6 linked regions of the Homo sapiens genome follow. The protein of the gene in region 5 purifies or fractionates together with the protein of the main gene of each other region. This does not show direct contact. Each region holds a gene or a part of one and is shown on either strand. Other genes may lie near its edges. The genes, in order: TMLHE, LARS2, MOCS1, CYP24A1, SSC4D and TOP3A.

Region 1 (5,114 bases), on a different chromosome or scaffold from region 5:
TCCATTCTACTGTTGATGGACATATGAGTAATTTCCGGTTTGGAACTACTACAAACAGTGCTGTTATGAACATTCTATTACATGTCTTTTGGTGAACAAATATATTCACTCCTATTTGAAATAAACTTAAGAATGGAACTTATGGATCATAAGGTATGTGTATGCTCAGATTTACTAGATACTGCCAAAGATATTCTTTCCAAAGATAAATTAACATCCAATGGTGCCATTTTTGGATATCTCAGGCAATATTCCTTAGTGTTAGATAGTACATGGCACAATCAGAGCCAACATTCTTAGTTTTGTTGCATATAAAATGAGCATAATAACATCTGCTTAGCTGATCTCACAGGGCTACTGCAAGAATCAAATGCAAAAATAGGCCGGGCGCGATGGCTCACGCCTGTAATCCCAGCACTTTGGGAGGCCAAAGCGGTCAGATCACCTGAGGCCAGGAGTTCAAGACCAGCCTGGCCAACATGGCGAAACCCCATCTCTACTAAAAATACAAACAAAACAAAACAACAAAAAAATTAGCCAGGCGCGGTGGCACGCGCCTGTAGTCCCAGCTACTTGGGAGACTGAGGCAGGAGAATCACTTGAACCTGGGTGGCGGACGCTGCAGTGAGCCAAGATCGCGCCACTGCACTCCAGCCTGGGCGACAGAGCGAGACTCTGTCTCAAAGAAAAAAAAAAAAAGAAAGAAAGAAAGAAAGAAAAAGAATATAATAGTCCATCCTCCCAGGCTTCAAGGAGCCATGCCTGGAGGGAGAATGGAGTGAGGAAGCACAGTCTTCACCAGGCTGTTGACACCCATTGTCATTTCCAGAAACTTCTAGTGCTGGGTTAGGCATTTGTGAAAATATTATTTAATTTACTTATTTCATCATCCCAGAAGGAAAGGTGTTATTAACCTCCTTTTACATTTAAGGCAACTGAAACTTAGAGACCTGCCACAGAGTTCATACGTAGCAGAGAGGTTTTGAAATCAGGTGTCCTTAATTCTTTAACTCATTGTTTATACCAGAGAACAGAAAAATGATCGTAATTCCTGTGTACGCTTGTTCATGAGAGCAACATTTTTACAGATCACACTTACAATCTTTTGACTTCAAACTGAGATTTGCAGTTTAGAAATGTTTCCATATACACTATCTGATTGACCCTCTGCATGATAACCACGTGAGGTAAGTAGTACAGCTGTTATTGTCTTACTTTATAGATAAGGAAAATAATGATAAGACCTTGTGATTTGTCCAAGCTTACATGGAATTTGGTATTCACTATTTATATTAGATGGTGGTGTTTTCTAAAGCCAACAGAGAAAGTAGCAGGAAAAGTCTATTACACATAAGCAAAATGGTTGTGCAATACTTTGGATTAGAATAAGACTATTTCTGGACTTTGGCACAAAGTGATGCCATCATATTATTGTGCAGTTTTTCCTTTTTTTCCTGCTTTGATATGAAGCAAGAGAGACGTGGGAGTAGGGGAAAGCAAATAAAGCAGGCATTTATCTGACAAGAAAAGCTAGGAAGATTTAACAAAGTTATCCTTCTTCTTAGTTGACAGACAAGTATTTCCCAAGAGAGCTCCATAATTGAGCAGACGATGCATTTGATGGATTTGTGTATTGTGGTGTAAGTGAAAGCTGGTGGGCTTTCAGATAGGTAGATAAATAGGCTTTCAGTTAGATCACCATTACAATCTCAGTTCAGGTGTGTGACCTTGGAGGAGCTATAGAAATTATAAAAATGCTAGAAGAAAACCTCGGGATGACTCTCCAGGATAATGCTCTGGGAAAAGATTTTATTCCCCAAAAGCACAGGAAACAAAACCCAGAAATAGACAAATGAGACTGGATTAAACTAAAGAGTTTCTGTGAGGCAAGGGAAACAATCAACAGAGTGAAGAAACAACCCACAGTATGGGAATATGGCCATTGTAGAATGGCTGTTATTACAAAGACCAAAAATGACAGACGTTGGCAAGTATGTGGAGAGAAAAGAACTCTTATACATTCAATAAACGGTGCTGGGGAAACTGGATGTCCACATGCAGAAGAATGAAATTAGACCCTTTTCTTACAACATATACAAAAATCAACTAGAAATGGATTAAACGCTTACATGTAAGACCTGACACCGTAAATCTACTAGAAGAAAACACATGGTATAACTCTATGATATTGGTCTATACAATTACCTTTTGGATATGATCCAAAAGTATAAGCAACGGAAGAAAAACTAGGTAAATGAAATTGCATCAAACTGAAAAGCTTCTGCACAGCAAAGGAAACAAAAGAATGAAGAGACAACCTGCAGAATGGGAGAAAGTATTTGCAAACTATACATCTGATAAGGGGTTAATATCTAAAATATTTGAGGAACTCAAACAACTCAATAGTAAGAAAACAAATAACCTGATTTAAAAATGGGCAAAGGATCTGGATAGACATTTCTCAAAAGAAGACATACAAATGGCCAAGAGGTATATGAAAAAGTGCTCAACATCACTAGTAATCAGATAAATTCAAATTAAAACCACCACGGGATATCATCTCATACGCCTTAGGATGGCTATTATTAAAAAGACAAAAGATAACAATGTTGATGAGGATGTGGAGATAAGTGAACCCTTGCACACTGTTGGTGGGAATGTGAATTAGTGCAGCCATTATGGAAAACAATACGGAGGTTTCTAAAAAAAGCTAAAAGTAGAACTACTACATCATCCAGCAATCTCACCACTGGGTATATACCCAAAGGAAATGAAATCAGTATGTCCGAGAGATATCTTCCATGTTCTTTGCAGAAATATTCACAATAGCCAAGATATAAAATCAATCTAGGCAGAATACATGGGAGTGTATATAGAGAAAATGTGGTATGCATAAAAAGTGGAATACTATTCATCCTTGAAAAAGAAGAAAGTCCTGTCATTTGTGACAACATGGATGAACCTGGAGAACATTAAGTGAAAATAAGCCAGGCACAGAAATATCAATACTGCATGATCTCACTCATATGTGTAATGTAAAAAAAAAGTTGATATCATAGAAATAGAGAGCAGAATGGTGGGTACTAGAGGCTGGTGGGTTGTGGAGTAGTGGTTGGGTGGTTGGGGATATGTTGCTCAGAGGATACATAATTTTAGATCAGAGAAATAAGTTCAAGTGATCTATTTTTCCATGTGATGACTATAGTTAATAACAATGTATCGTAATTTGAAAATTTCTAAGAAACAGTCAATCAACGGAGTGAAGAGATAACTCACAGAATGTGAGAAAATGTTTGCAAACTATGCATCTACAAGAGATTAATACCCGGAGTATATAAGGAACTCAAACTCAATAACCAAAAAAGACATATTCCCTTAAAAATGGACAAAAGTTCTGAATAGACATTTCTCCAAAGAAGGCAGACAAATGGCAAATGGGTATATTTTTAAATGCTCCACATCACTAATCATTAGGGAAATGCAAATCAAAACCACAATATCACCTCACCCCAGTTACAATGGCTATCATTAAAAAGACAAAAAATAGGCTGAAAGTAAGGATGGTTAGTATGTACAAACACAGAGAGAATGAATAAGATCTAGTATTTGGCAGCACAATAAGGCAACTATAGTTAACAATAACTTATTGTATATTTAAAAATAACTAAGAGAGTAGAACTGGAGTGTTCCTAACACAAAGAAATAATAAAGGCTTGAAATGATAGATACCTCAATTATCCTGATTTGATCATTACATATTGTATGCCTGTATCAAAACATCACATGCACTCCATAAATATATACAACTATTATTTACCCATAATAATTAAAAAAATCAAAATTTAATTTAATAACATAAAATATAATAAAGTGATCTTAAAAGAAATTTGCCCGTGGTTAGATATTACTTGTTACACTTTAATTGATGATTTCTATTATAATTTCATAGTACTTAGAATATATATATATATTAGAAAATATCATCTATAGGATTTTTGCTTTCATGAGGGTAATGATATTTTAAGCCTAAAATATTAGAATTTTCAATAATTTTCTCTAGTGTTTGGAAATTATTTTAATCCTCTGTTTAGTGCTCAAAAATGCTGTTCATTTGTGACTGATTAGTTAAACTTTCTAATAAAGTGATTTTACACTCTTTATGTTAAAGAAACAACAAATGCTGGTGAAGATGTGTAGAAAGGGGAAATCTTATACATTGTTGATGGGAATGTAAACTAGTACAGGCAATATGGACAACAGTACTGAGGTTCCTCAAAAAATTAAAAATAGAACTAGCATATGATCCAAAGAACTCACTACTGGGTATTTTAAAAGGAAATGAAATCAGTATGTTGGAGAGATACCTGCACTCTCATTGTGATGGTTCAATTTACGAGTCAGCTTGACTGGATTGAGGGATGCCAAGACGGCTGTTGAAACATTGTTCCCTGGGTGTGTCGGTGAGAGTGTTTCCAGGGGAGCTTGGTGTGTGAGACAGTGGACTGCAACAGGTAAGATCCACTTTCAATGCGGGCGTGCACTGTCCTGTTAGCTGGGAGCCTGGTTGGGACAAATAGACAGAAGAGGAGGAATTCTCTCTCTCTGCTCATCCTATCTCCCTTCTGCAGCCAGATTTCTTTCCTCCTCCTGTCCTTGGACATCAGACTCCAGTTTCTTCCACTTTTGGACTCTGGGACTTGCATCCACAGCCTCCAGTGGGCTCTTAGGCCTTTGGCCTCAGACTGGGGTCTGTACTCTCAGCTTCCCTAGTTCTGAGGCTTCCAGACTTGGAGTGAATCGTGCTACCAGCTTCTTCGGTTCTGCAGCTTGCAGATGGCCTATTGTGGGACTTCTCCATCTCTATAATCATCTGAACCAACTACACCTCATAAATCCTCTCTCATATATCCTATTGGTTCTGTCTCTCTGGAGAACCTTGACTAACACACCCATGTTTATTGCAGCACTATTCACAATAGCCAAGATATGGAATCAACATAAGTGTCCATCAACAGATGAATGGATAAAGAAAATGTGGTGCATATTCACAATGGAGTACTATTCAGCCATAACCAATAATGAGATCCTGTCATGTGTGACAACATGGATAAGCC
Region 2 (5,114 bases), on a different chromosome or scaffold from region 5:
GCGTGTAAAAGTCTATTCTGCCATCTTTGCAATAGCATGGGGAATAATTATGCCTTTATTTTTATTTTTTTGAGAGAGAGTCTCGCTTTGTCACCCAGGCTAGAGTACAGTGGCACCAAACAGCTCACTGCAACCTCAAATTCCTGGGCTCAAGGGATCCTCCCGCCTCAGCCTCCTGAGTAGCTAGAACTACAGGTGCATGCCACCACACTTGGCTAATTTTTAAATTTTTTACAGATGAAGTCTTGTTATGTTGCCCAGGCTGGTCTCAAACTCCTGAGCTCAATCGATCCTGCTGCCTCGGCCTCCCAAAGTGCTGGAATTACAGGCATGAGCCACTGTGCCTGGCCCTGAATAGTTACGTTAAAGTATTCTCAGCAAATTTGACAGGTATTTAAAAAAAAACAAAAACAAAAACAAAAGCATCTTGTTTTAAATTTGCCTTTCATGATAATTAGAGAGGCAGACTTTTTTTTCTCCACAAATGTATTGGCTATTTCTATAACATTTTCTATGAGTTATTATCTTTTCATATGCTTTGACCATTTTTGGTTAGGTATTTTCATATTAATATGTAAGAGTGCTTTACAAGGATATTAACCTTCTGTCTGACATGTTATAAATTTTTTTAACATACTGAAAATGTCAAGTTTTATGTAGTCAAATTTGAAATTTCTTCCATTGTTCTTTTTTATCTTTATTTTACTTTTTAAAAATTACCCTTTTAATTTTATTTTTAGAGACAGAGTCTCCTGCTCTGTTGCCCAGGATGGGTTCAAGCGATCCTCTCGCCTCAGCTTCCCGAGTAGCTACAGCTACAGCTGTATGCCACCATGCCAGGCTAATTATTTTATTTTTTTACTTTGTTTTTGAGGCGGAGTCTTGCTTTGTCGCCCAGGCTGAAGTGCAGTGGCGTGATCTTGGCTCACTGCATGCTCCGCCACCTGGGTTCACACCATTCTCCTGCCTCAGCCTCCTGAGTAGCTGGGACTACTGGTGCCTGCCACCACGCCTGGCTAATTTTTTGTATTTTTTAGTAGAGATGGGGTTTCACTGTGTTAGCCAGGATGGTCTTGATCTCCTGACCTCGTGATCCGCCTGCCTCAGCCTCCCAAAGTGCTGGGATTACAGGTGTGAGCCACCATGCCTGGCCTAATTATTTTATTTTCTACGCGGCCCAGGCAGGTCTTGAACTCCTGGCCTCAAGTGATCCTCTCAGCTTGGTCTTCCAAAGCGTTGAGATTACAGGCATGAGCCACTGTGCCTGGCCCCCACTGATCTTAAAAGCTTGGAGAGGACTTCATTTTTAAAAAGCATTTGTTAATAGCTTTAATGAATGCTTTTGTTGTCCAGTAGCTAAGAACATTTGTTGACAAATCCTTTCCCTGGCAAGAAAAATGGTAGTCACACTTAGCAAGAAGGAAGTCCATACTGAAAAGGCTGACTTTTGGCATTGGTGAGAACGATCCTGATCCATCCAGGTTAAATGAATATCAAATGTAATGATGCCGAGGAGGTATCACAATTCATTCATGAAATCAGACAGCGGGGGTGCAAAGAGCCAGAAGACAGGGAGGCCTGAGTCTGGTCCTAGATTTGTCACTAATCAACCAGACATGTCATCTAACTTCCCTGGGCCTCAATGTCCTCATCTGTAAAATATTGGGGGAGAAGGGGGTTTGGACCAGAAAATCTTTAAGAACATTCCAGCATAAAACTAGGTTGTGACTATGGAAAAATGTTTCCTTAAGATAATCAAGCCACACTGAGGCGGTGACACAGTGGGGGTGCTCTCTGTCCCTCTTGGGACCCTGTGGGGCCCCTTGCCACACCTCTCCCTCCCTCCTCTGCTACCAGCAAATGAGGACAGGCCACTTACCGAGAGGGCATTGCTGAGTCCCATCAGCTGAGAAATTGCAGAATTCAGTGAGAAGTCCTCTGTGAAATGGGTGGTCACCTATTAGTAAAGGTTCAATTATTTACTTATTTCAAAATTCTTTTAAGCTTTCCACAAAAAGACTGAATTATCAAAACAAAAAAAAAGGAAAATGAATGGGATGCAAAGATATTTATAAATATATCTACTATCTCAAATAATCGCTATGTTTCATCTACACAAATATTTTAAAATTCAAAGTCAACACTGTTTCCACTGTTTAAGACTATTCTTCCACATATCTGGGATACTGTTGGTTCTCATAGTAGGTGCTTAGAAAAACAGTGCTAGTGGCTGGGCACAGTGGCTCACACCTGTAATCCTAGCACTTTGGAAGGCCGAGGTGGGTGGATTACTTGAGGTCAAGAGTTCGAGACCAGCCTGGCCAATGTGGCAAAACCCCATTTCTACAAAAATACAAAAAATTAGCCGGGTGTGGTGGCGCATACCTGTAATCCCAGCTACTTGGGAGGCTGAGGCAGGAGAATCTCTTGAACCTGGGAGGTGGAGCCTGCAGTGAGCTGAGATTGCGCCATTGCACTCCAGCCTGGGCAACAGAGTGAGACTTTGTCAAAAAAAAAAGCAATGCTAGTAACATGAATAGGACGCAGGACCCACTGATGGGTAAACTCAACATAACAGAAAACAGGAATAAAGGATGCCACTTCTGCTTGGTTATGTGACTTTGCTTCACAGTGACGGTTTTTAGAATATGGGATAAGGTTAATTTTACTTTTTTTTTTTTTTTTGAGACGGAGACTCGCTTTGTCACCCAAGTTGGAGTGCAGTGGTGCGATCTCAGCTCACTGCAACCTCTGCCTCCCAGGTTCAAGTGATTCTCCTGCTTCAGCCTCCCGAGTAGCTGGGATTACAGGCGCGTGCCACCACGCCAGGCTAATTTTTTGTGTTTTTAGTAGAAACGGGGTTTCACCATGTTAGCCAGGATGGTCTCAATCTCTTGATCTTGTGATCTGCCCGCCTTGGCCTCCCAAAGTGCTGGGATTATAGGTGTGAGCCACTGCGCCTTGTCAATTTTACATTTTGAAATGTACAGTCAACATAAGAACATTAACACAGCTTGTCAGCTTTTTCATGTTTCTGTGCTTTTCCATTTTGACTATAGGCAAGAATACAGAAAAGTAACACATCTTTAAGGATGTCAAGAGTTTCCAACTTGTTGAAATAACCTAATTCTTTTATCTGACAGAATAGAAGAATTTGCCAAATCCAGGGAGAAAATATGTGGTATGAACTCAATCGCTCAGGCATCACTCAGACCCCTACATTCATTCAGGGAGCTCTGTTCCTCCACATAGAGAGGGTACAGAGGCCAGAAATAAAGCTGAAGAAGTGTCAACAAATAAGACCATGCTGGACCCAGGGCCACTTCAGGTTATACAAACCAGAGAGGCAAAAACCTGCCATGCATCATTGTGTTCATTATCAGAGTGCAGATGAGCGACACTGATTAACTTTATGTCTGAATCAGCATAACTTTTTTTTTTTTAAATCAGCTTAAGAAGAATTTGGGATATCAGATACCCATTACAATGACTTCAGATTTGCAGAAATTAACCCACAATAGTTCACATGGATATTGTGTAACAAAGTAACTGAGTGGGAAAGTCCTCACTATGTGGAGGACTGGGATTCTAATCTCTGCTCAGTTCCTCACTAGCCGTGTGACGTTAGGCAAGATATCTGGACATCATCTCTGTCCCCATCTGTACAATGAGGAGGCTACAGAGGATAGTTTCTTAATGCCCCTTCCAACTCTAAAATTGTATTTCTGTTAATGTAACATATGCGGTGTCATCCTGGATGACAGGGTGATCCTGGATTTGGTTCTCTGCTTGGATGTGTTAAATGTGGAAACATGGAAAGTGGCAGCTTCCTGAGACCCAGGATGGACAAATGTGAGACATCATCAGAGAGCCATTTCCTGGGGGCATCTCTTTCCATTAGAACATATGCACTGTTGATCCACCTTGGTAAAGTACCCAAAACAGTAGGGCCAATCAATCAAAGCAAGAAGGACCGCCATTGCCAGGAAGGAAGACCCACAGTGGCCCAACCCAAGGCAGGGAGGGCAGCAAAGACCACAGGCAAAGGTTCCCAAAGAGTGCTTGGTTACAGAGTTAACCCCTGGAATTGGAGAGTTTCTGACCTGAGAGATGACGGAGTTCTTGTACTCCCAGAGCTTCCTGGCCTCAGCTTTCTCCTTGTTACTCAGCAGCTGAGGCTGGGGAGACTTCCCAGAAGCCCTGGCCTCAATAAACCGAGTTGTCAAGGTCCACAGTCGTTGTTGCCATCTCAGCACCCCAGGGAGAGCATCAGCTGAATTCAGCATCAGTAAATGAGAAAGAGAGAGCGTGCAACATAAGGGTGATTGACTTGGTATAACTAAGCAGAGAAAAACACCTGTGAATTGATGTGACACTTCACTGCACCCTGATGGATTCCTCTGAGGGCAGGCTGAAGGATCCTCCCTGGCCTTCAGTGTCTGAGAATTCAGACCAGGACCAATTCTATCTCATTTTAGTGCCCAGATTCAGAGCACTGGATGGCAGGGCCACTCAAAGTGCCACCCACCAACGGTCATGAGCTCAGAAGCTTGGTCAAGATGAGCCCTGGTGCCCCGCCGCCTTGATTAAGCAAGCTTGCTGGGACAAAAATGCCATGGAGTTAACATGGTGCTTTGGAGACAGTGCTGACTCCTGCTGGTGCAAGCTCTTACCTTGTGGATAGCATGACTGTGCTTGCAGCCACACTGCTGTAGAGTGTGAAGTGCATTGGCACAATCCCTGTCCTTGCAGGTATGTGTGTTTTCCATATTTTACACAAGCTCATCCAATCCAGCTGCTGGTCTGATCTTCTGGTAAAGCTGAATGGCTTTACCTGGTGGCCCTGGGTTATACCAGTAGCCAAATTAGGGTCAGTCCAGGTCCTTGTACTGTCTGGCCACTAGGCTAGGCATTCTCAAGCCTGAATGCACAGCAGAACCTTCTGGGAGGCTTCTTAGAAAGATTCCTGGAGCCTGTCCCCTGGGTTAGGGGTGGGAGCCAGAACCTCCACCTGTCTGTGCTTTGCAAGCCCCCCAGTGATTCTGAGGCAGCTAGTTCTAGGACTGGCATCTGTGACCACTGTTCCAGACCACACTTCCCACTAGCCACAGCTA
Region 3 (5,010 bases), on a different chromosome or scaffold from region 5:
TGACTTCGGGTTTACTGCTCAAGGTAAACAAACAGTGACTGTGATTAAAGGAACCTGACGTCTTTCCCTCAGCCTACATTGCATCCCAGCTCCAGGCCTGGGTGGGCCATGGGTGAGAAGGGCAGGTGCTAAGCCCGATGGAAGTCCCCCCGCTGACCACCAGTCTTGCTAATGAGCTTGATCTCCTCCAACACGATGTCCCTGCTGACAGCCTTGCACATGTCATACAGGGTGAGGGCGGCCACTGCAGCAGAGGTCAGGGCCTCCATCTCCACCCCGGTGGGGCCCCGAGCCCGGCAAGATGCCTGGATCTTCACGGCATGGCGTGTGCTGTCCAGCTCCAGCTGCACCTGGATGTGGCTCAGGGCCACGTGGTGGCACAGAGGGATCAGCTGGCTGGTCACCTTGGCTGCCTGGACTCCAGCCAGCTGGGCCACCACTAGGGCATCTCCTTTCTTGAGCTGGTTCTGCTGGACAAGCTTGAAGGCTACCGGTCCCAGGAGGACCACGGCTGAAGCCACAGCCACCCGCTCTGTGTCTGGCTTCCTGCCCACATCTACCATAGCTGCCCGTCCTTCCGAGTCCACATGAGTTAGTTGTTCTGAGGTTAGCTGGGGTCCTGAGGGGGCAGCAGAAGCCCAGGAACCTGGGCTAAGGCACTTTGAGTTGGCATCTGAGTCTGCACGGGAAGTGTAGTGTCTCTGAAAGGAGCCAGACCCCAGCCGCTGCTGGGCTAGAGGAGGGGTCTGGGGGACCCTGCATCCTTTCCATAAAGTGGCCACCTGGCTGGAGAAACTCATTCTGGGTCTTAGACCCTGAACATGGAGCGGGTCCCAGGAGAAAATGCTTGGATTGGCTGGTGGGGAATTGGGGAACATCAAAAATAACTCTGCAAGGCAAGAAGAAAAGAGAAGAAACACTAAGTCCAAAAGGCAATTCTTTTTCCCACCTCTACTCCCCAACCCTCTCCCTATCCCACCTCAAGTTCTCTTTCATACCGGGGAAAGAGGAATGAAGAACAAAAAGCATAGTGGGACAAGACAAAGTAGAAGATCCACAGATAGATGGCACCCAGAGTCCAAGTTCACAGCCCTTCTCACCCAGTGATGTACAGGGTAACAGCCCTCCTAGAAACTGCTGTGCCACCGTGGCACAGGGTTCCCTCCACATGAAAACCTTCTCAATTCCCAAGTTCTCTCAAGCAGCACCAAGTTGAGGCCTGGATCACATGACCTCTGAATGTCCCTTCATTTTCTTAAAACTAGAGCTAGGTCTCACTCTAAATTACCAATTACACCTATTTTTATCTTCACATTCTCCATGAAGAGTTAATATAACCACTTAGTTTACAGACAAGATAATAAGGGGAATTTGTGATCTACTTAAATGTTTTTCAAGTCCCCTGAAGCACATGAGAAGCACATACAAACTGACGGGCTAATTCAGATGGTGCAGAGGGCCTAGGGAATGGTGCAGGCTCTTGTTACTCAAAGGGTGGTTGGCTTATGGACCAGCAGCACCAGCAGCACCAGCACCACCTGAGAACTCACAAGAGATGCAGAATCCCACCCCAGACCTTCCAAGTCAATCCAAAAGGACAAAATCCCCAGTGATTCACATGCACATGAAATTCTGAGAGGCCCTGTCCTAGGCAACTCTTGGTTGTATAGAAAGCAGACTGGTTACTCAATATCTCTGAAAGTATGAGGCAAATGCTCCCCCAGCTTCCCACTTCGCATCATACTCTAAGCCCCAGACATGTCAATGTCAGAGGGGCAGCCTCCCTTCTGGGGAGATGCCATCAAGGCCATGAAGGTGCCTCAGCATGGGTCAGGGCCCAACAAGAGGACTTGGATGCTGGGGGTGGGAGGAGAGGAGATGAGAGTCTTCTTCCCAGTGGCAAGCTACCTTTGCTTTCCCGGGCAGCCAGTGGGCAAAGATGGTCCTTGGGCTGTCTCTAGCCTGCCTTCCCCTCTGGGCCACTGAGTTCCCTCTGCTCTAACCTCTAAAGAAAGGATCTTTCCTCTCATCTTTTCTCCCCCCTGCTTTTTCTTTCCTAGTGGCACAGTTCAGGGGGCTCAGAACTGACTGCGAGCAAAGGGTCAAGGCCTCACCTGCTATAATCTGGGCACCGTGACAGAGGGGCAACAGCCACCCTACAGCTCCTCAGTGACCAGCCCAGCCCCCAGGGGTAGGAGACCACATAAGGACTTAAAACCAGGGGGCTTTTGTTTGAAGCATCCTACACACACGATGATACATCCTATGCAGATGTTCCTGAGAGTTAAGGAATTGGGAAGTTGAGGTCTTGGCCATCATTACCTCATGTTACATGTGAGTAACATTATTAACTTGCTGCCTCAAGATCTGCCCAGCACAGACGTCTGGCCACACATCCACCCGTGGGGGCTCATGGTCCAGATACACCGTGCATGGATCATTGGGTACTACAGAGGACACCTGTCACATTATCCAAATGGGAGATTTTAGAGCCGAGGAAAAGGCCTCTGTTTTAACCAGGATTTCAATTCTCAGGGAGCCACTAACTTAGTGATCATTAAATCTGGCAGACCATCCCCCTGCTCTGATGTCTGGTGAGACAGAAGGATCATTTCTGTGGCAGGTATAGTAAGGGGGATCATGAACAGTGGGGGAAGAAACAGTAAAACCTTGAAGGTTAAGAAGAGATGAAGGAGGAATAGAAGAAAAACAAGGATGAGAAATCAGCATGAAATGCAGGAGCTGGGGGTGCCTATGGCACGGCTCCCACCCCACGAGATCCCCAAATGACAAGGGTGAGTGGTTACGTACTGATGGGTCACCCACCGATGAGGATCATGGGCCGGTTCTTCATCTGGGAAATACTGAACATGCCTGGGGTGAGGGAAAGATGGGGAGGGAGAGGAAAGCAGGGGAGGGGGAGAGGGAGAGGAAAGCAGGGGAGGGGGAGAGGGAGAGGAAAGCAGGGGAAGGGGAGAGGGAGAGGAAAGCAGGGGAGGGGGAGGGGAGAGGGAGAGGAAAGCAGGGGAGGGGGAGGGGGAGAGGGAGAGGAAAGCAGGGGAGGGGGAGGGGGAGAGGGAGAGGAAAGCAGGGGAAGGGGAGAGGGAGAGGAAAGCAGGGGAGCGGGAGAGGGACAGGGCGGGGAGAGGAGAGTTCACTGAAACAAACGCGCTTGACAGCCCCGAGCACATGCACTCAGCTGTATGACAAAAGGCCCCCACATGTGCACTGCGAGGTCGCTCAAGGCTGAGCCCAAAGAACAGTCTGTGGACATCAGGACCCTGCCCTCCCTAAACAGAAGGCCACGTGTGGGATGAGAAAGAAGCAATGACACCCCCTTCTCCCCACCTAGTAAAACAGCCCAAGAGAATCTGGGGTCCCCTCTCCTGTGCAGCCTCTGCTATGACTTTTCCCCATGGAAGGAGAAGCATCACTGTACCCTGAGTCCAGAGGGCCAACAGCAGTGAGTGGTAGTGGGGATGATGCTGACTCTCGCCAGCTTCCCCCTAGGTGTTCCTTGGTCATCTCACCCCACAACTCCACACCTCCCTCCCAGGGACAAGGCCCACTCACCATCCAGGCCAGCCCTCCCCACCCTGCACTTACCTGCATGCTGCCGCTTCTTCCTGCCCACAGCAGCCCCAATGATTCTCAGCAGCTCCTGCTCAGAGGCCCCAGCTCGCAGGTGATCCCGCAGGGATACCTCAGAGTTTCCAAAGAGGCAGACCTACATGTGGGTGAGGACAATATGCCTTCCTTACCCCTGAGCCTTGGCCTCCTGGCCTCTGAGGAGCTAACTCCTTCCCTGGTTCTCCCTCCGGGAGGAGCACCAGGGCCCAGGCCTCCCATGGCAGGGCCCCTAGCAGTGAGAGACAGAGGTGCTGTAGGGAGGTCAGAGAGGCTAGAAGAGCAAGAGGCAAAATTCGACTTCCCAATACCTATATGTGAGTTACAGTCATACTTCCCTCAGTGTATTTTTAAAAAACTAAGTAGATGCCAACAGAGATAGCATGTAAAAATCCAGATCTCTACCTTCTGAGACACTTGCTGGAATGGCCACTTTATCACCATGAGAATGGCCCCCAACCAGTTGGAGCTGTGTGTGTCCTGGAAGTCTCCTACCCCTGTTGTGGCACACACATCCCATTTCACCTCAGCCCCTCCAAGTCCCTTGTGGACATCACCTGACTGCCCTGTACCTATTTGAGTCTGTGATCACTGCTTGGAAGCTTCAGCTGAGGGCTGCTGGGCATGACAACTTAAGGTCAAACTTCACTCAATGCTTCTCAGCTTCTGTAAGAGGGATGGATGAGACAGCCCCAGAAATCAATATACCTACCATCCTTCCACCAAAACTTATGAAGCATCTACTCTGTGCCAGCTCTGCACAAGGCACTGTGGCCACAGAGAAAGAAGAATGTCTGAGAAGCTTCTGCAGGCAGAGACCACTGGAGAAGATACCAGTGAAATCTAGGATAGGTCTAACTGCTTCAGCGTGCCTGTTATTCCTCATGCCTCGCTCCCCAACCAGCCTCCAGGTTCCCTTCTCTGCAACAAAGAGGTTCCTCCTGTGGACTTCACCTGGTACCACCCTCCCCTCCCGCCCCCCAGCTGGCTCCTGCCTGGGAGATCAATGGGTAAAGGGAAAGAACAATCTTCAGGCATTTCTCCCCTACTTCCTCCCTGCTTTGATGTATCTGGCAGCAGCTGCTTCTCTGCACAGCTCAAGTGCCAATGAGGTGGCCTCTCTTCTAAGGCTCCAGCCCTTCCTGGGCCCCAGTGACATCAGTGCCTCCCCCTTGCCCTTCCTAAGTGGGAACAGCACTTTGCTGCTGCTGGTCCCAAGTACCTCAATATCCTTTATTGGTTCCCTTAATCTTATATGTTATAAATAGCTTCTTCATTACATTCTCTTCAGAATCCCACCTTCCATTTCCTGCCAAGACCTCACAGATACAGATACCACCTCTAGTCCAAGTCAATTCCGTATCTCCAGCCCAGAAAAACCCC
Region 4 (5,114 bases), on a different chromosome or scaffold from region 5:
TTTTTCAATACCGACATGAGCAAGGCTTCTCAAACTTTAATGTGGATAGGAGTCACCTAGGCATCTTCTCAAAATGCAGAATCTGAATCAGGGCTTGGGTAGGCCTGGAACTCTGCATTCCTAATAAGCTTCTAGGTGATGCTGATGCCACTGGGCTGCAGGTCATAGTTTTGAGTAGTAAGAGTTTAGATCTTGGGAGAAAAAAGTGTAAAAGAAGGTAGGATTTGGGTTCACTTTCAGAATCCAACTTGGACCCAGATATTACTAAGCACACATACCCCACATACATACGCACAAGTAGAGTGTCCATCCATGTTGACAATAATGGTAAAAATTTCTAATATTTATAACATAAAATCTAGGCGTGTACCTCCCTCACTATTAAGCAAACAACCACCAGGCTCATTATATGGTAATAATCATGCTGATCACATATGGCACAGCAGTTAGAGTTCGAGTCCTGGAAGCTCCTTGTCTGGCTTCAAACCTTGGCTTTGCCATCACCTAGCATGCAATCTTGGGAACGTTGGCTAACTTCTATGTGTCTCAGGTACCCCTCTCAGGGCTAATAAAAGGACCTACCTTATAGGTGTGTTGTGAGGATTAACTAAATGTGTAAGTGAACAATGCCTAGCATCAAATATTCCCCTTCGTCATGTGGCAGAAATAGATCTAGTCCACGGAGATACTGTGATATGCCAGGTTTTTATGTTAACTGTAATCTGTAGTAGACCCAGAAACAGTTACATTGAGGTAGGTTCTCTTATTATTATTATTAATTATTAGTCCATTTTAGAGACAAGGCAACTGAGGATGAAAAGGTGATTGCACATTTGGCCAAGCCACCACAACCAGTGACAGAGCTGAACTTGAACTCAGGAGTCCCTGACTCTATAAATTTTACTTTTTTATTTTGAGATGGAGTCTCACTCTGCCTCCCAAGATGGAGTGCAGTGGCTCAGTCTTGGCTCACTGCAACCTCCGCCTCCCAGGTTCAAGCAATTCTCCTGCCTCAGCCTCCTGAGTAGCTGGGATTACAGGTGCCCACCACCACGCCCAGCTAATTTTTGTATTTGTAGTAGAGACTGGGTTTCACCGTGTTGACCGGGCTGATCTCAAACTCCTGGCCTCAAGTGATCTGCTCGCCTGGGCCACCCAAAGTGCTGGGATTACAGGGGTGAGCCACTGCACCTGGCCAGATTTTACTTTTAACCACTCTTAATTCCCAAAGAAGACTACAGAAAGCTTGTTACTTAGAATTTGTGTATGCTGGGGCAATCCCCAAAACACCTGTGTTTGCAAAACCTAAATGTGGTGATGAGGCTCAGGAGATCACTCCAGACCTCCTCTCTGAAGCTCCAGACACGGGGGTGCTGGGCTGGTTCTGGCTGGTTGTGAAGGGCGGCCCTTTACCTGATTTGAAAATGGTGTCCCAGGCCAGAGTGTGGTCCTGCCAGACCTTGGTGTTGAGGCTCTTGTGCAGCTCGACTGGAGTGACCATCATCCTCCCAAACGTGCTCATCATCTGAGAGAAATGCAAATGCCTTTTTATTCTGAATTCTCCTTCTCTCAAAGACAATGTTCGTTCTGGAAGAGGAACATTCTAAACCGCAGCACCCTGCACTTTTTAAAAGGCTGGAATTACAAGGACACCCCCGGCTCTCTCTGCACCGGTCCTGGGAGCAATGCCCGTACCCCACCTCCACCTCCTTTCAATATTGAAGGTAATGTGGGGGATGATTTTCCACTGGATGTGTTTGATAAAAATTGTAATCTTATGACCTAATTGTAAAAAAAAAAAAAAAAAGAGGAAAAACGATAACTTTCATATTCACTTCAATTTCTAATAATTTCCAAACTTCAGTGATTTCCAAACCAATTTCACAGCGTTTATCCTATCTACACGCCACCCAAACTATTCAAAAAGATAAAATCTGAAAAATTTTGGGCTCTTTTTAAAAAGTATTTTTAATCAACTGATCTTTAATTAAAATAGCTATTTTAACCTTGCCTAAACAAAGAAATAATGGATTTAATGTGCTTCTTTATGTTACGTGCATATATCCAGGGGTCCCCAACCCCCAGGCCGTGAACCAGTACTGGTCAGTGGCCTGTTAGGAACGGGGCCGCGCAGCAGGAGGTGATCAGCGGGCCAGCAGGTGTTACCACCTGAGCTCTGCCTCCTCTCAGATCAATGGCTGCATTAGATTCTTACAGGAGTGTGAACCCTATTGTGAATTGCCTATGCGAGGAATCTATGTTCCACACTCCTTATGAGAATCTAATGCCTGATGATCTGTCACTGTCTCCCATCACCCCCAGATGGGACTTTCGTGTTGCACGAAAACAAGCTCAGGGCTCCCACTGATTCTACATTATGGTGAGTATATAATAATAACAGAAATAAAGTGCACAGTAAACGTAATGCACTTAAATGATCCTCCCTCCCCTGCCCCACCACCCTGCCCTGTCCATGGAAAAATTGTCTTCCACGAAACTGGTCCCTGGTGCCAAAAAGGTTGGAGACAGCCGCATATATGCACATAAATATACTAAAATATATAATGCACATTAAAATGAACACTTAACTATTGAAATAAAATATGTGTGTATGCCATTTTTTGGGAATCACTGTGAAGTTCTGTAAAAATCGATCTGTAAAACATCAATCAAGAAAACTGCTTTCTTAAAGAGGCTGCTTACTGTTTTGATGGCCATGATGAAGTTCACAGCTTCATCCCCTGCATTCTTCTGGAGAAGCCCAAATCTCTTCTCATACAACACGAGGCAGATACCTGTCATTTAAAATAATCATCACTTTACACAAACAGCAATGCTGGAGTTGGAGTCTATGTTTAGCTGGTTATTAAAGACTCAATTCTATGCCTCTTAAAAGTGTGGGATTTTCTGAGAAAAGGCAACAGTCCAAGAATATTGAGGAAAAGCAGAGTCTGAGAGAAAGGGGACACCATCACTTTCTTTTTCTAGAAATTATCTCCAGGTCCAATGACTCATCACCTCAGAGTGTCATGATCAGAGATCCACTGTCCTGATCAAGTCACACAGGAGATCCAGGGGCCCTAGCAAAGGTGCTGCAGGGTCGGGTCTGCACTCTGCCTCTAACCCAGCTGTGTTTTTAGAGTCACTTATTGGATTCTATCTCCTGACATAATGAATTGGAAGCCATTCACCAGAGGAAGAGAAGGGAAGGGAATAATTATGTTCTAAACACCCATTACACGCCAGGTACTGGGCTAGCACTTCATATAGGGTTTTTTTTCCTTCCATTTCATCATTTTATTTAGAAGGAACCTTTTTACAAATAAAATTCTCAACTCTTCATTTCAAAACTTTTTACCTAGAGAAAAGTTGAAGGAATGGTAAAATGAATACCTGAATCCCCCGAACTCATCAACATCTTGCTGCCATTTCTTTCTCTTTGTGTGTATGTATGCATACAAGTGTATACGTGGTTGTGTGTGCTGAAGCATCTGAAAATAATTTTGAGCTCTCAGGTCACTTCACCGTTAAATACTTTAGCAGTAATGTCCTAAGAATAAAGCATTCTCCAACATAACCACAATGTCATTAACATCCCTAAGAACCTTAGCGACCATTCCATAAAAAATCTACTGTGTCCCATTTTAAAATGTTCCCCATTGTCCTAAAAATTATCTCTTGTAACCTTTTTTTTTTAAAAAAAGGACACAGGGCCGAGCGTGGTGGTTCACACCTGTAATCCCAACACTTCAGGAGGCTCGGGCAGGCAGACTGCTTGAGCCCAGGAGTTCGAGAATAGCCTGGGCAACATGGCAAAACGCTGTCTCTACAAAAAAATAAAAATAAAAAAATTATTCAGGCATGGCTACATGTGCCTGTAGTTCCAGCTACTCTGGAGGCTGAGGTGGGAAGATCTCTTGGGCCCAGGAGGCCGAGGTTGCAGTGGGCCGAGATCATACCACTGGCCACTGCACCCTAGCCTGAGTGACACAGTCTGGAAAAAAAAAATTATACAGGATTACTGCAACCAACTTTTTAGTGGTGGATAATTGGCTCTTGACTTATAAAGTAGGAGACTAGCATTAAAAAGGTAAACAAATGGCCTAAAATCATAAACCTGAGGAGTGAGAGTCAATTAGCTTAGTCAGCACCCACCCACAGCTTTTCCAACTACCTCCATGTTTTCCAAACTCTACTTATTTCTTCCCAGCCTTTCAAGGTTTCCCCGTATTTGTGTTCCACAGTGGTTGGCAGGTACACCACTGGGAATATGTGAGATAGCTCTGGATGGTACATGAACTTTAAAAATAATTAGTTACTCTGCTGGGCACAATGGCTCATGCTTGTAATCCCAGCACTCTCAGAGGTGGAGGTGGGAGCATCATCTGAGGTCAGGAGTTTGAGACCAACCGGTGGCAAAACCCCATCTCTACTTAAAAAACACAAAAGTTAGTCAGGCGTGGTATCGCACGCCTGCAATACCAGCACTTTGGGAGGCTGAGGTAAGTGGATCACCTGAGGTCAGCAGTTCGAGACCAGCCTGGGCAACATGGTGAAACCCCATCTGTACTAAAAAACACAAAAATCAGCCAGGCATGGTGGTGTGCACCTGTAGTCCCAGCTGCTCAGGATGCTGAGGCAGGAGAATCGCTTGAACCCAGGAGGTGGAGGTTGCAGTGAGCCGAGATCACGCCGCTGCACTCCAGCCTGGGGCAGAGTGAGAGTCTGTCTCAAATAAGTAATTAAAAAAAGTTACTTATATTTATCTATTTATGGCAATATTTCTGACCTTGAATTTATGGAAGTGTTATAGGTTTTCCTTCTATCCCTCCCATCAGCAGCCACAGTGATCCTCCCAGTAAATCTGCCCATATATCACACTGCTGCTGAATACATTCCCGCAGCTCCCGGTTACTTACAGGCTAAAATTCAAACTCCCGCTCATACAGCCCTCCATGAGCTGGCTGCTGGCCCTCTGCCAGCCTCTGTTACAGGATATGCTTGTCATTCCGCACTTCTTCTGCAGGGACACTCTCCTTCCTCCCTTTTCACCTGGTGAACTCCTACTCAACCATCAGGACTTAGCTGAGGGGCACCATCTCTGTGAAGCGACC
Region 5 (5,672 bases):
TGGGATTACAGGCACCCGCCACCACGCCCGGCTCATTTTTTGTAGAGATGGGTTTTCGCCATGTTGGCCAGGCTGGTCTTGAACTCCTGACCTCAGGTGATCCACGCGCCTCAGCCTCCCAAAGTGCTGGGATTACAGGCATGAGCCACCGCACCTGGTCTGTGCATTCGAAATATAGTATTGGTGCCACGGACAGCAACCCACTTAATTTGGGAGGATATAGATACTCATGTATTGTTTTATTTTCAATAATTCTTTTTAAATTGTACAATGCCTTCTAAAAAGGACTCTGGTTTTCCGTTTATCAGAACAATATAGTCTCCCTTTCAAATTAATTAATTAATTTTTTTTACTTTAAAGAATTTTTTTATTTTTTATTTTTTACAGATAGGGTCTCACTCTGTCACCCAGGCGGCAGTGCAGTGGCATGATCATGGCTCACTGCAACCTCCCTATCCTGGGCTCAAAGGATCCTCCCGTCTCAGCCTCCTGAGGAGCTGGAACTGCAGGCTTGCACCACCACACCCAGCTAATTATTTTTCTTTTTTTCTTTTTAGTAGAGATGGGCTCTCGTGCTGTGTTACTCAGGCTGGTCTCAAACTCCTGGCCTCAAGTGATCCTCCTGTCTTGCACTTTTTTTGTTTTTAATACCCCAATCCTAAATCAGAAAAAAAAAAAAATCTTCAAGGCCTTTCCACCCAAAATGGGCCGAGCATTGTAAGCAGCGTTTAGTCTCTCAGACCTTCCTTCACTTTTTTTATGTATTTGTGTGTCATGGTAACTATGATTTACTTAATATTTTTCTCATTTTATTGGCACATTTCTTCTGATTTAAATTATTTATTTATTTATTTATTTTTGGAGACAGAGCCTCCCTCTGTCACCCAGGCTGTAGTGCAGTGGCCTGATCTCAGCTCACTGCAACCTCCACCTCCTGGGTTCAAGGAATTCTTCTGCCTCAGCCTCCCGAGTAGCTGGGATTACTGGCATGTGCCACCATACTCGGCTAATTTTTGTATGTTCAGTAGAGACGGGGTTTCCCCATGTTGACCTGGCTGGTCTGGAACTCCTGACCTCAAGTGATACACCCGCCTCGGTCTCCCAAAGTGCTGGAATTACAGGTGTGAGCCACCAGGCTTGGCCCTGATTTAAATTAACTCTAGGCCAAGTGTGGCAGCTTACTCCTGTGAGCACTTTGGGAAGCTGAGGCGGGAGGATCTCTTTTTTTTTTTGAGACAGAGTCTCGCCTTGTCGCCCAGGCTGGAGTGCAGTGGCACAATCTCGGCTCACTGCACCCTCCACCTTCCAGGTTCAAGCGATTCTCCTGCCCCAGCCTCCTGAGTAGCTGGGATTACAGGCGGGTATCACCACGCCCAGCTAATTGAGGGAGTATCTCTTGAGCCCAGGATTTCAAGACCGGCCTAGGCAACATAGTGAGACCCCATCTCTACAAAACTAAAAAACAATTAGCTGGGCATGGTGGTGCATGCCTGTAATCCCAGTGCTTTGGGAGGCTAAGGCAGGAGGATCACTTGAGCCCAGGAGTTCAAGGCTGCAGTTAGCCATGATCATGCCACTGCACTCCAACTTGAATGACAGAGTAAGACCCTGTCTCTAACTAAAAAGAAAAAAAAAGTGCATAAACCATGAGCTTAGAGCTCAAAGAGCATTCACACCATGTAACCAGTGTCCCAGAAGCCTCTCTCACGTCCCCTTTTCTTGCAGACTTTTAGCAAGGGTCTGATGCATTGTGTGCACTGTGGACTGGTTGGTTGGGGAGAGATGGGAAGCTGGTTTAGAGGCTGATGCAGTTGTCCAGACTCTAGGCCATAGGAGGCAGAGAGGAAGGAGAGATGCGAAGGATATGTGGGAGACTGAACTGGCAGGACTGGGCTACTCTTGGTGTTGGGGGTCAGGGAGCTAGGAGCATCCATTTGGCTCCCAGCCACCCTGATGGGGACTTTGTAGGAGGCGGCGGTAGAGAGGATGGTTCTGTTTGGGCTACACTGAGAGTGGGACTGGGGGACATGGGTGCTTGTCCCAGAAGGAGCTCCCCACCATCCCTCCAACCCCCTCCTCTCTCTGGCTTTACCTGTGCCCTGGTGTACAAAGTCTGGTTGGGGAGAAGATGAAAGCCTATCTGGATGCAGACACAGGGATTTCAACACCCCATTCATGGGGCCCAGGACAGCCCCCAGTGGAATAATCACCTTTTGTCCTCCTTCTGCCTGGACTGGGGACAGCTGGGAGATGGGAGCTGAGAACCATGAGGAGGGGGAAAGACACAGTCCAGTCTTTGCTTGTTGTGGGGGGGCACATAGTTATCTTGGCCTCCTTTTGCCTCCTGGCCTCAGTGCCACCCACTTCTCAGGCTGCTGGGATACTGGCCCCCCAGGCCAGATCAGCCCCCACCCTGGGGACAGGCAACTTCCAGAGACCCTGCCAGGAATCCTCAGCTTCCCCACCTCTATCCCCTGCCACCTCAGCCCAGGCGTGAGGGAGAAGGACCCCCGATCCTGATCCCCACAGATTTCAAATCCCAGGTGACCCCAGAGCCCTCTGCCAAGCCTGCCTCCTACCCTCCCAGCTCCAAGGTGGGCCCCTCCAGTCTGCTCCTGCTTCACGCCCAAGGGAACACTGGCAAGACAAGGCTTCATCCCTCCCTGTCCTTGGTGATTAGGGCTCTTGAAAGCCCTCCCATCCCTTCATATCCCTTTCAGAGTCCATCTGTTGCCTACATTTTCTACAGTACAGCCGGCAGCCTAACACAGCGGTTCATATTGCAGCATCAGCTCCACCATCTCCTAGCTGTATGACCTTCACCTTGCAAAGCCTCACTGTTCTCATCTGTAAAATGGCTTTCGTGATCCACTTACCCCTTATCATTTTTGCCAAGTTCAATGAGCAAATGTTTTCACAAGGCTTAGCCCAGTGTCTGGCCCACTCTAGGTGTGGTAGCTATTGTTATCATTACTGTTTCTCCATCGAGACTGCAGACCCTTGAGGGTGGAAACCAGATCTCATTCAGTGGTTGCCCTTGGCACAGGGTGGATACTCAGGAAATGTTTGTTGAGTGACTGAATCAAGGTGATGGCTACAGAATCATAGAAAACAGCAGCCAGAAGGGGCTTGGGAGATTAACAAGGACAATTTCCCATCTGACCAGTGGGAAATGGTTGCCTCTCTCTCTCTCTCTCTCTCTGTCTCACACACACACACACACACACACACACACACACACATGCATGCACACGCACACACACACAAACACTCCAGCAAAAGTGAAGGATTCATACCTGGGGGAATGTTCTGGGCTCTTTCTGTCCCTTCTTCTACAGTCAATCCAAGATCGAATCACTTTGTCTGCCCCTGGAAGTTTAGGAGGAGGAAGGATCTTCCAAATGGAAATCAACACAGGCGTTTCTTCTTTTCTTTCCACAGCTGGAAGGTGAGCAGAGGCAAAGTCCCTGTCCATGGAGCTGGCTGGTGGCCCCAGCCTGTCCCCATCCGACCTTAGGGACAGCAAGAAGCAAAGGGGAGTGGAGGTGGCCGGCACCAGCTGGAGCGGCCCCAGAAAAAGGGCACCCAGGTGGAGGCGGAGCTATGTGGTTGGGGGAGGCATGGACTCTCAAGGCCAGGCAGCCCCTCCTCCCCCCACAGCCCCCCCACCCCAGGGTTCAGGTTTCAGGAAGGCCTGGATAGGTCTCCACCCCTTTGCAGGGCAGCCAAGCATCCTGATCTTTGGAGGTAGCCCTGATCCAGCCCAGGAGTCCCGCCTGATGATGTCCCGACCCACATCTCAGCTGAGGGTTTGGAAATGGTCCCAGGAGCCACAGTGTATGGAGTGGGTTTCCCACATAGACAGGACCTCACAACCTCACTTGGGGGCTGCTGATTTTGCCTTCTTTTTTTTTCTTTTTTCTTTTTTTTCAGACAGAGTCTCTCTCTGTCACCCAGGCTGCTGGAGTGCAATGGCACGATTTCGGCTCCCTGCATCCTCCGCCTCCCAGGCTTAATCAATTCTCGTGCCTCAGCGCCCGAGTACCTGGGATTACAGGCATGCACCACCATGCCAGGCTAATTTTGTATTTTTAGTAGAGACTGGGTTTCTCCATGTTGGCCAGGATGGCCTTGAAATCCTGACCTCAAGGGATCCGCCTGCCTCGGCCTCCCAAAGTGCTGGGTTTACAGGTGTGAGCCACCGCACCCAGCCTAATTTTGCCTTCTTGTGTAGTTCTTTTTTTTTTTTTTGAGATGGAGTTTCGCTCTTGTTGCCCAGGCTGGAGTGCAATGGTGTGATCTCAGCTCACAGCAACGTCCGTCTCCCCGAGTTCAAGGGATTCTCCTGCCTCAGCCTTCCAAAGTGTTGGGATTACAGGCATGAGCCACTGCACTGGCCAAAAAAAAAAAATGTTGAGAAGCTCCTGAGGATCAAACAAATTGGGGACCAGTCCCAGCTTTTTATGGTGAGGCTGGGAAGACTGAGGCCAAGGGAGGAAAACAGGTGGCATGAGTGTGGGCCCGGCAGGACTTAATTTCCTGACTCCTGGTCATGATGCTGTTTCCTATTTCTTGGAAAAAGAAAGTACTAGATGTACCAGGCGAGGTGGCTCATACCTGTAATCCCAGCACTTTGGGAGGCTGAGGTGGGCAGATCACTTGAGGTCAGGAGTTCGAGACCAGCCTGGCTGACATGGTGAAACCCCGTCTCTACTAAAAATACAAAAATTAGTCAGGTGTGGTGGCGGGTGCCTGTAATCCCAGCTACTCGAGAGGCTGAGGTGGGAGAATCGCCTGAACCCGGGAGGTGGAGGTTGCAGTGAGCTGAGATCGCACCACTGCACTCCAGCCTGGGCAACAGAGCAAGACTCCATCTCAAAAGAAAAAAAAAAAAAAAAAAGAAAAGAAAATACTTGATGGAAGGCTGCCATCACCATGCTGCAAAATCTCCACGCCCCTGCTGCCCGCACCTGTCCTTCCTCCCTCCCTCCTCCCCTGGCCTGGGGAAGCCCCTTCCCTGAAGTCCAGATTCCATTCCTTCCGTCATCTCAGGGACCTCTTTCCCTCCATCTGCACATCTATCTGTCTTCCATGTTCAGCTGCTCCTTCCCAATCAGATTTTTCGGTTCCTAAGCAAGCTCTCGTCTTTCCCATTAAAGCAAACAGTGGCCAGGAGTAGTGGCTCATGCCTGTAATCCCAACACTTCCGGAAGCAAAGGCAGGAGGATCGCTTGAGACCAAGAGCTCAAGACCAGCCTGGGCAACATAGGGAGACCCCATCTCTATAAAAAATTAGAAACATAGCCGGGCATGATGGTGCGCACTGGGCTGTAGTCAGTTACTTGCAAGGCTGAGGTGGGAGGATGACTTGAGCCTGGGAGGTTGAGCCTGCAGTGAGCTATGATTGTGCCACTGCACTCCAGCCTGGGTGACAGAGAGAGACCCTGTTTTAGGGGAAAAAAAAAGAACGATGATGAGTTATTGCCACCCACCTATGAGAATGGTTGAAAAAAAAATAGTTGGTGATATCAAATGCTAGTGAGGATATGGAGAAACTGGGTTCCTCACACATTGCTGATGGGAATGTAAAATGGTCCAGATACTCTGAAATATAGTCTGACAGTGTCTTAAAAATCTAAATGTACATTCACCATATGAACTAGCAATTGTAC
Region 6 (5,114 bases), on a different chromosome or scaffold from region 5:
TTTGGAGCAATGTTGGTTATATTTTTGGTATCATAACCAAGAAATCATTGCCAAATTCAGGATCAGAAAGAATTATACAAAGGAATCCATTGTTTTAAACGTAATTTATATTTTTTACTTATTTTTGTTTTATAGAGAGAAGGACTTTCAAAATTCAACAAGATCTATGAATTTGATTATCATCTGTATGGCCAGGTAGGTGCTAAAATATTTCTAAAATATTTCAATCATAAGCAAGAGAAAGTAGTCAGCCTCGTCATATGTAGAATATGTCGCTGTCTTAAGAATAACAACTGTTAACAACCTAAAGGTTCCTGGATATGGGGTGATCACTTTATAATTTATGAGGAGTTCTCTTTTTAATAAAATATGGTCCCATCTCAGCTCTTCATTACAAAAAAAAAAAGCTAATATACAATAGTTTGAGGAAAATTTAACTGATGCAAGAGGCGTCAGTTATACACCATATCATTAGAATGGTGATTGTATTCCTGTGACTTTTGGCTTTGAAGAGCTTATATTTATGTTTATTTCTTCCCAATCAGGTTTTTAAAAATGTCTTTAATAGAAGCTCCTCCCTCTCATTTTAATGATTTGGCAGAATAATAACTGCAAAAAGACTAACTGAATTTTGAATTTTGTCATCATTCAGAATGTTACCATGGTAATGACTTCAGTTTCTGGACATTTACTGGCTCATGATTTCCAGATGCAGTTTCGAAAATGGTCAGTACAATTCTCAAGGGAAGGACTTTCAGATTATAGTAAGTTGTGAAATTTCACAGGAATTTTGAGGCATGTTGATCTTACTGGGTAATTTTTTTTTTTTTTTTTTTTTTTTTTTTTTTTTTTTGTTGGAGACAAAGTTTCAGAGTGAGACTCTGTCTCCCAGGCTGGAGTGCAGTGGTGTGATCTCGGCTCACAGCAACCTCTGCCTCCTGGGTTCGAGTGATTCTCCTGCCTCACCCTCCCGAGTAGCTGGGACTATAGGCACGTGCCACCACACCTGGCTAGTTTTTGTATTTTTAGTAGAGACAGGGTTTCACCATGTTGACCAGGCTGGTCTCGAACTCCTGACCTCAGGTGGTCTGCCCACCTCAGCCTCCTGAAGTGCTGGGATTACAGACCGTGAGCCACCATGCCCGGTTTTTTTTTTTTTTTTTTTTTGAGTCAGGGTCTCGCTGCGTTACCCAGGCTGGAGTGCAGTGGCGCAATCTCGTCTCACTGCAACCTCCGCCTCCTGGGTTCAAGCGATTCTCATGCCTCAGTTTCCCAAGTAACTGGCCTTACAGCCATGTGCCACTACACCCAGCTAATTTTTTCTATTTTAGTAGAGATGGAGTTTCACCCTGTTGCCCAGGCTGGTCTTAAACAAAGCAGGGTTTGCCTTCTTTTGCCTCCCAAAGTGCTAGGATTACAGGCGTGAGCCACTGTGCCTTGGTAATTTATTTATTTATTTATTTATTTTATTTATTTTTTGAGACGGAGTTTTATTCTGTCGCCTAGGCTGGAGTGCAGTGGCACAATCTTGACTCATTGTAACCTCCACCTCCCGGGTTCAAGCGATTCTCCTGCCTCAGACTCCCGAGTAGCTGGGACTACAGGTGCCTGCCACCACGCTTGGCTAATTTTTCGTATTTTTAGTAGAGACGGGGTTTCACCGTGTTAGCCAGGCTAGTCTCGATCTCCTGACCTCGTGATCCACCCACCTTGGCCTCCCAACGTGCTGGGATTACAGGCGTGAGCTACCACGCCCAGCAGTAATTTATAATACTAAGATGACCTAGGATTATCTGATCCATTGTGAATTTTTATTAAATCTTTAAACAGTCACTTTTGGTGTTCCTCAAAATTGCCAGACCTTTTTCATGCAGCCATTGGATTGCATTTACCTGTGAAAGGGCTCCAGAATGCCATCTTATCAGTCCTGTTCACACTCTTGGAGAAGTGGACAGTGTGTCATGCAGAGGGTCATAGCCTTACTTTCAATTCACCGGGACCTTTTCTTTTGGGGATACACCATGAACCCATTGGAACAGTTTGCTGTCATTAGATTGGAGGGCTCTCTGTCATGTACTGAGTTGGGACTCTGTTTTCATTTCTTTTCTAGGCAGAGCTGCAACCCTCTTGTCCTCTTTGAAGCAGAAATTGAAAAGTACTGCCCAGAGAATTTTGTAGACATCAAGGTAGGGTCTTTTGGAAGACATATGGCACTGAGTCAAACCACAGAGTCAAACAGAGTGATTTCTTTGTTTTTAATGCATTGGCATTTGGAGATAAGGTTTTCCACCAAAGTCACTACCATGATTTAAAAAGCTGGTTCCCACCCATTGTATAAATGTGGCTAAGTGGCCAAGGGACTGAAGTAAACTTTTTTTATGAATGGTAGTTGTTTAAATCCTAGGAATAAAGGCTGGACATGGTGGTTTATGCCTGTAATCCCAGCAATTTGTGGGGCCAAGGCAGGATCACATGAACTCCAGGAATTTGAGACCAGCCTGGGCAACATAGTGAGACCCTATCTCTCAAAAAAAAAAAAAAATTTAACCAGGCATGGTGATGTATGCCTATAGTCCCAGCTACTAGTAAGGCTGAGGAAGGAGGATTACTTGATCCCAGGAGGCAGGAGGTTGAGGCTGCAGTGAGCCGTAATCACACCACCACACTCCAGCCTGGTGAGAAAGTGAGACCCTATCAAAAAATAATCCTAAGTATTGTAAATTATTAGCGCGTAGCCCCCATCTCACCCCTTGTTAGATGAAAGAGGCTACAAAGTATAAATGCCTGTTTGACAGTAAATTGCCAGTTGTCAAGCAGTCAGGGCATGTATAGTTAATTTATTTTTAATTTTTATTTATTTATTTATTTATTTTTTGAGACGAAGTCTCGCTCTTGTCCCCCAGGCTGGAGTATGATGGTGCAATCTCAGCTCACTGCAACCTCTGCCTCCAGGTTCAAGCGATTCTCTTGCCTTAGCCTCTCAAGTAGCTGAGATTACAGGCGCCTGCCACCACACCCGGCTAATTTGTGCATTTTTAACAGAGATGGGGTTTCACCATGTTGGCCAGGCTGGTCTCGAACTCCTGACCTCACGTGATCCACCCGCCTCAGCCTCCTAAAGTTTTGGGATTACAGGTGTGAGCCACCGAGCCTGGCCAGTTAATTTATTGAGAACTGATAAAACTTTGGATGAAATTCAATTGGGATTCATTTTGTTTTGTTTTGTTTTGTTTTGTTTTGAGATGGAGTCTTGCTCTGTCACCCAGGCTGGACTGCAGTGGTGCGATCTCGACTCACTGCAAGCTGCGCCTCCCGGGTTCATGCCATTCTCCTGCCTCAGCTTCCCGAGTAGCTGGGACTACAGGTGCCTGCCACCATGCCCGGCTAATTTTTTGTATTTTTAGTAGAGACAGGGTTTCACCGTGTTAACCAGGATGGTCTCGATCTCCTGACCTCGTGATCCACCCACCTCGGCCTCCCAAAGTGCTGGGATTACAGGCGTGAGCCACCACGCCCAGCCGGCTTCGTTTTTTTTAACTAGGTCATAATCAGAACCTCTCGAAGTGTGCGTGCGCGCGCGCGCGCGCGCGTGTGTGTGTGTTAGAGCTGAATTTCAGGTTTTGTCATATTGGGGAAGTTATATTAAACCCTCTATTCTAGAAACTCGTTTATGGTTCTAAGGGGTTGTATCATGATTAGCACCAATGAGAGCAGTTTTCTCTGTTCTCTTTCCCTTGCCAAGTTGTCACACTCCAAGAGCAGCATTAACCTTCAGTCAGATCCCCTTAGCTTAGAGATGTCAAGTCACTGTTGTGCAATTCTGTTCTCACCACTCTTATTCCACTGCGAACTTAAGAAAACTTTGGAACGAGAGACTCGCCAGTGCCAGGCTCTGGTGATCTGGACTGACTGTGATAGAGAAGGCGAAAACATCGGGTTTGAGATTATCCACGTGTGTAAGGCTGGTAAGTGCTGCTGCTGCTGCTGACTTTCTCTACTTTGGAACTCCATAAATAGAGTGTTCTTGTTTATATGTGCACATGGGCCACGGATGAGGTCCTCTGCAGGTACTCTCCCTCCCAGTCTGTGAGTCCCACCAGCCATGTGTCCTGGAGCAAATCACTGAGCCATTGGGAGCCTCAACTTCCTTGTCTCTAACATCAGGCCAATCTGACATGTTTCCTGGGACTGCCACAGAGATTAGATGAGTTAATGAGTGGTGTAAACCATTTAGCCCAGGACTCATTTCTTGTTAGGTACAAGCATACAAGCAGATACCCGGCTCCTTGAGAACAGGGACTTTATATTCTTTTTGTTGTTGTTGTTGTTGTTATATATTGAATTCTTTTAGTATTTGGTTAATGGAAGCAAAAATAGAAAAATAAAATTACATATTGAATATGTATAAAAGAATGAATATACCACAAGTAAAGTACAAAAAATAATTATAAAATGTTCTGTTTTCTTTTTTAATCTCTCATATTATACAATGCTCGACTATTAATAAATAATTGTTGCAGTGGATTTAAAGGCTCTAACAGTGTTAATGGTTTTGGGTAACTTAGAGGGAGTGATGAACAGGCCATTCTCTGGCTCAGAGGGTGGGGTTGCTACTTTCCTTTAGTGGTTTTGTGTTCAAAGCTGTAATGACTCCTGGAAATTTAAGTGCATTAACTTTCAAGGACAGTGTGTATATGTCCTATATTCTTTGCTGAAGGGACATGAAATTCCCCTACAGAACCCTTTAATTGACAATATTTTTCTTTTCTCAAAAGGCCTGAGAGAGCAAGTAAGATTAAAGTTGCAAAAGGCAGCCAGGCACGGTGGCTCATGCCTGTAATCCCAGCACTTTGGGAGGCTGAGGCAGGTGGATCTCCTGAGGTCAGGTGTTCAAGACCAGCCTGGTCAACATGGTGAAACCCTGTCTCTACTAAAAATACAAAAATTAGCCAGGTGTGGTGGCGGGCGCCTGTAGTCCCAGCTACTCAGGAGACCAAGGCAGGAGAATTGCTTGAACCCAGGAAGCAGAGGTTGCAGTGAGCCGAGATTGCACCACTGCACTCCAGCCTGGGTGACAGAGTGAGACTGTCTCCAAAAAAAAAATGTTCACCAAG

Evidence for each region.
Region 1: the proteins of SSC4D (region 5) and TMLHE purify together in Homo sapiens (affinity purification with mass spectrometry; one large-scale study listed by BioGRID and IntAct). This does not show direct contact.
Region 2: the proteins of SSC4D (region 5) and LARS2 purify together in Homo sapiens (affinity purification with mass spectrometry; one large-scale study listed by BioGRID and IntAct). This does not show direct contact.
Region 3: the proteins of SSC4D (region 5) and MOCS1 purify together in Homo sapiens (affinity purification with mass spectrometry; one large-scale study listed by BioGRID and IntAct). This does not show direct contact.
Region 4: the proteins of SSC4D (region 5) and CYP24A1 purify together in Homo sapiens (affinity purification with mass spectrometry; one large-scale study listed by BioGRID and IntAct). This does not show direct contact.
Region 6: the proteins of SSC4D (region 5) and TOP3A purify together in Homo sapiens (affinity purification with mass spectrometry; one large-scale study listed by BioGRID and IntAct). This does not show direct contact.

What each region holds. Positions count from the first base shown.
Region 1 is NC_000023.11:155,493,959-155,499,072, forward strand, and holds part of TMLHE (trimethyllysine dioxygenase, mitochondrial isoform 1 precursor), read right to left. Parts: intron 153-5,114; exon of another isoform or gene 1-152. UniProt on the Homo sapiens protein: Converts trimethyllysine (TML) into hydroxytrimethyllysine (HTML).
Region 2 is NC_000003.12:45,517,062-45,522,175, reverse strand, and holds part of LARS2 (leucine--tRNA ligase, mitochondrial), read right to left. Parts: intron 4,274-5,114; coding exon 4,104-4,273; intron 1,958-4,103; coding exon 1,880-1,957; intron 1-1,879.
Region 3 is NC_000006.12:39,906,229-39,911,238, forward strand, and holds part of MOCS1 (molybdenum cofactor biosynthesis protein 1), read right to left. Parts: intron 3,728-5,010; coding exon 3,607-3,727; intron 2,875-3,606; coding exon 2,827-2,874; coding exon of another isoform or gene 2,819-2,826; exon of another isoform or gene 2,812-2,818; intron 890-2,811; coding exon 129-889; 3' UTR 1-128. UniProt on the Homo sapiens protein: Isoform MOCS1A and isoform MOCS1B probably form a complex that catalyzes the conversion of 5'-GTP to cyclic pyranopterin monophosphate (cPMP).
Region 4 is NC_000020.11:54,163,039-54,168,152, forward strand, and holds part of CYP24A1 (1,25-dihydroxyvitamin D(3) 24-hydroxylase, mitochondrial isoform 1 precursor), read right to left. Parts: intron 2,796-5,114; coding exon 2,704-2,795; intron 1,526-2,703; coding exon 1,414-1,525; intron 1-1,413.
Region 5 is NC_000007.14:76,406,118-76,411,789, forward strand, and holds the start of SSC4D (scavenger receptor cysteine-rich domain-containing group B protein precursor), read right to left. Parts: upstream 3,581-5,672; 5' UTR 3,297-3,580; intron 1-3,296.
Region 6 is NC_000017.11:18,303,963-18,309,076, reverse strand, and holds part of TOP3A (DNA topoisomerase 3-alpha), read left to right. Parts: intron 1-135; coding exon 136-195; intron 196-652; coding exon 653-726; exon of another isoform or gene 727-764; intron 765-1,581; exon of another isoform or gene 1,582-1,604; intron 1,605-2,110; coding exon 2,111-2,186; intron 2,187-3,856; coding exon 3,857-3,965; intron 3,966-5,114. UniProt on the Homo sapiens protein: Releases the supercoiling and torsional tension of DNA introduced during the DNA replication and transcription by transiently cleaving and rejoining one strand of the DNA duplex.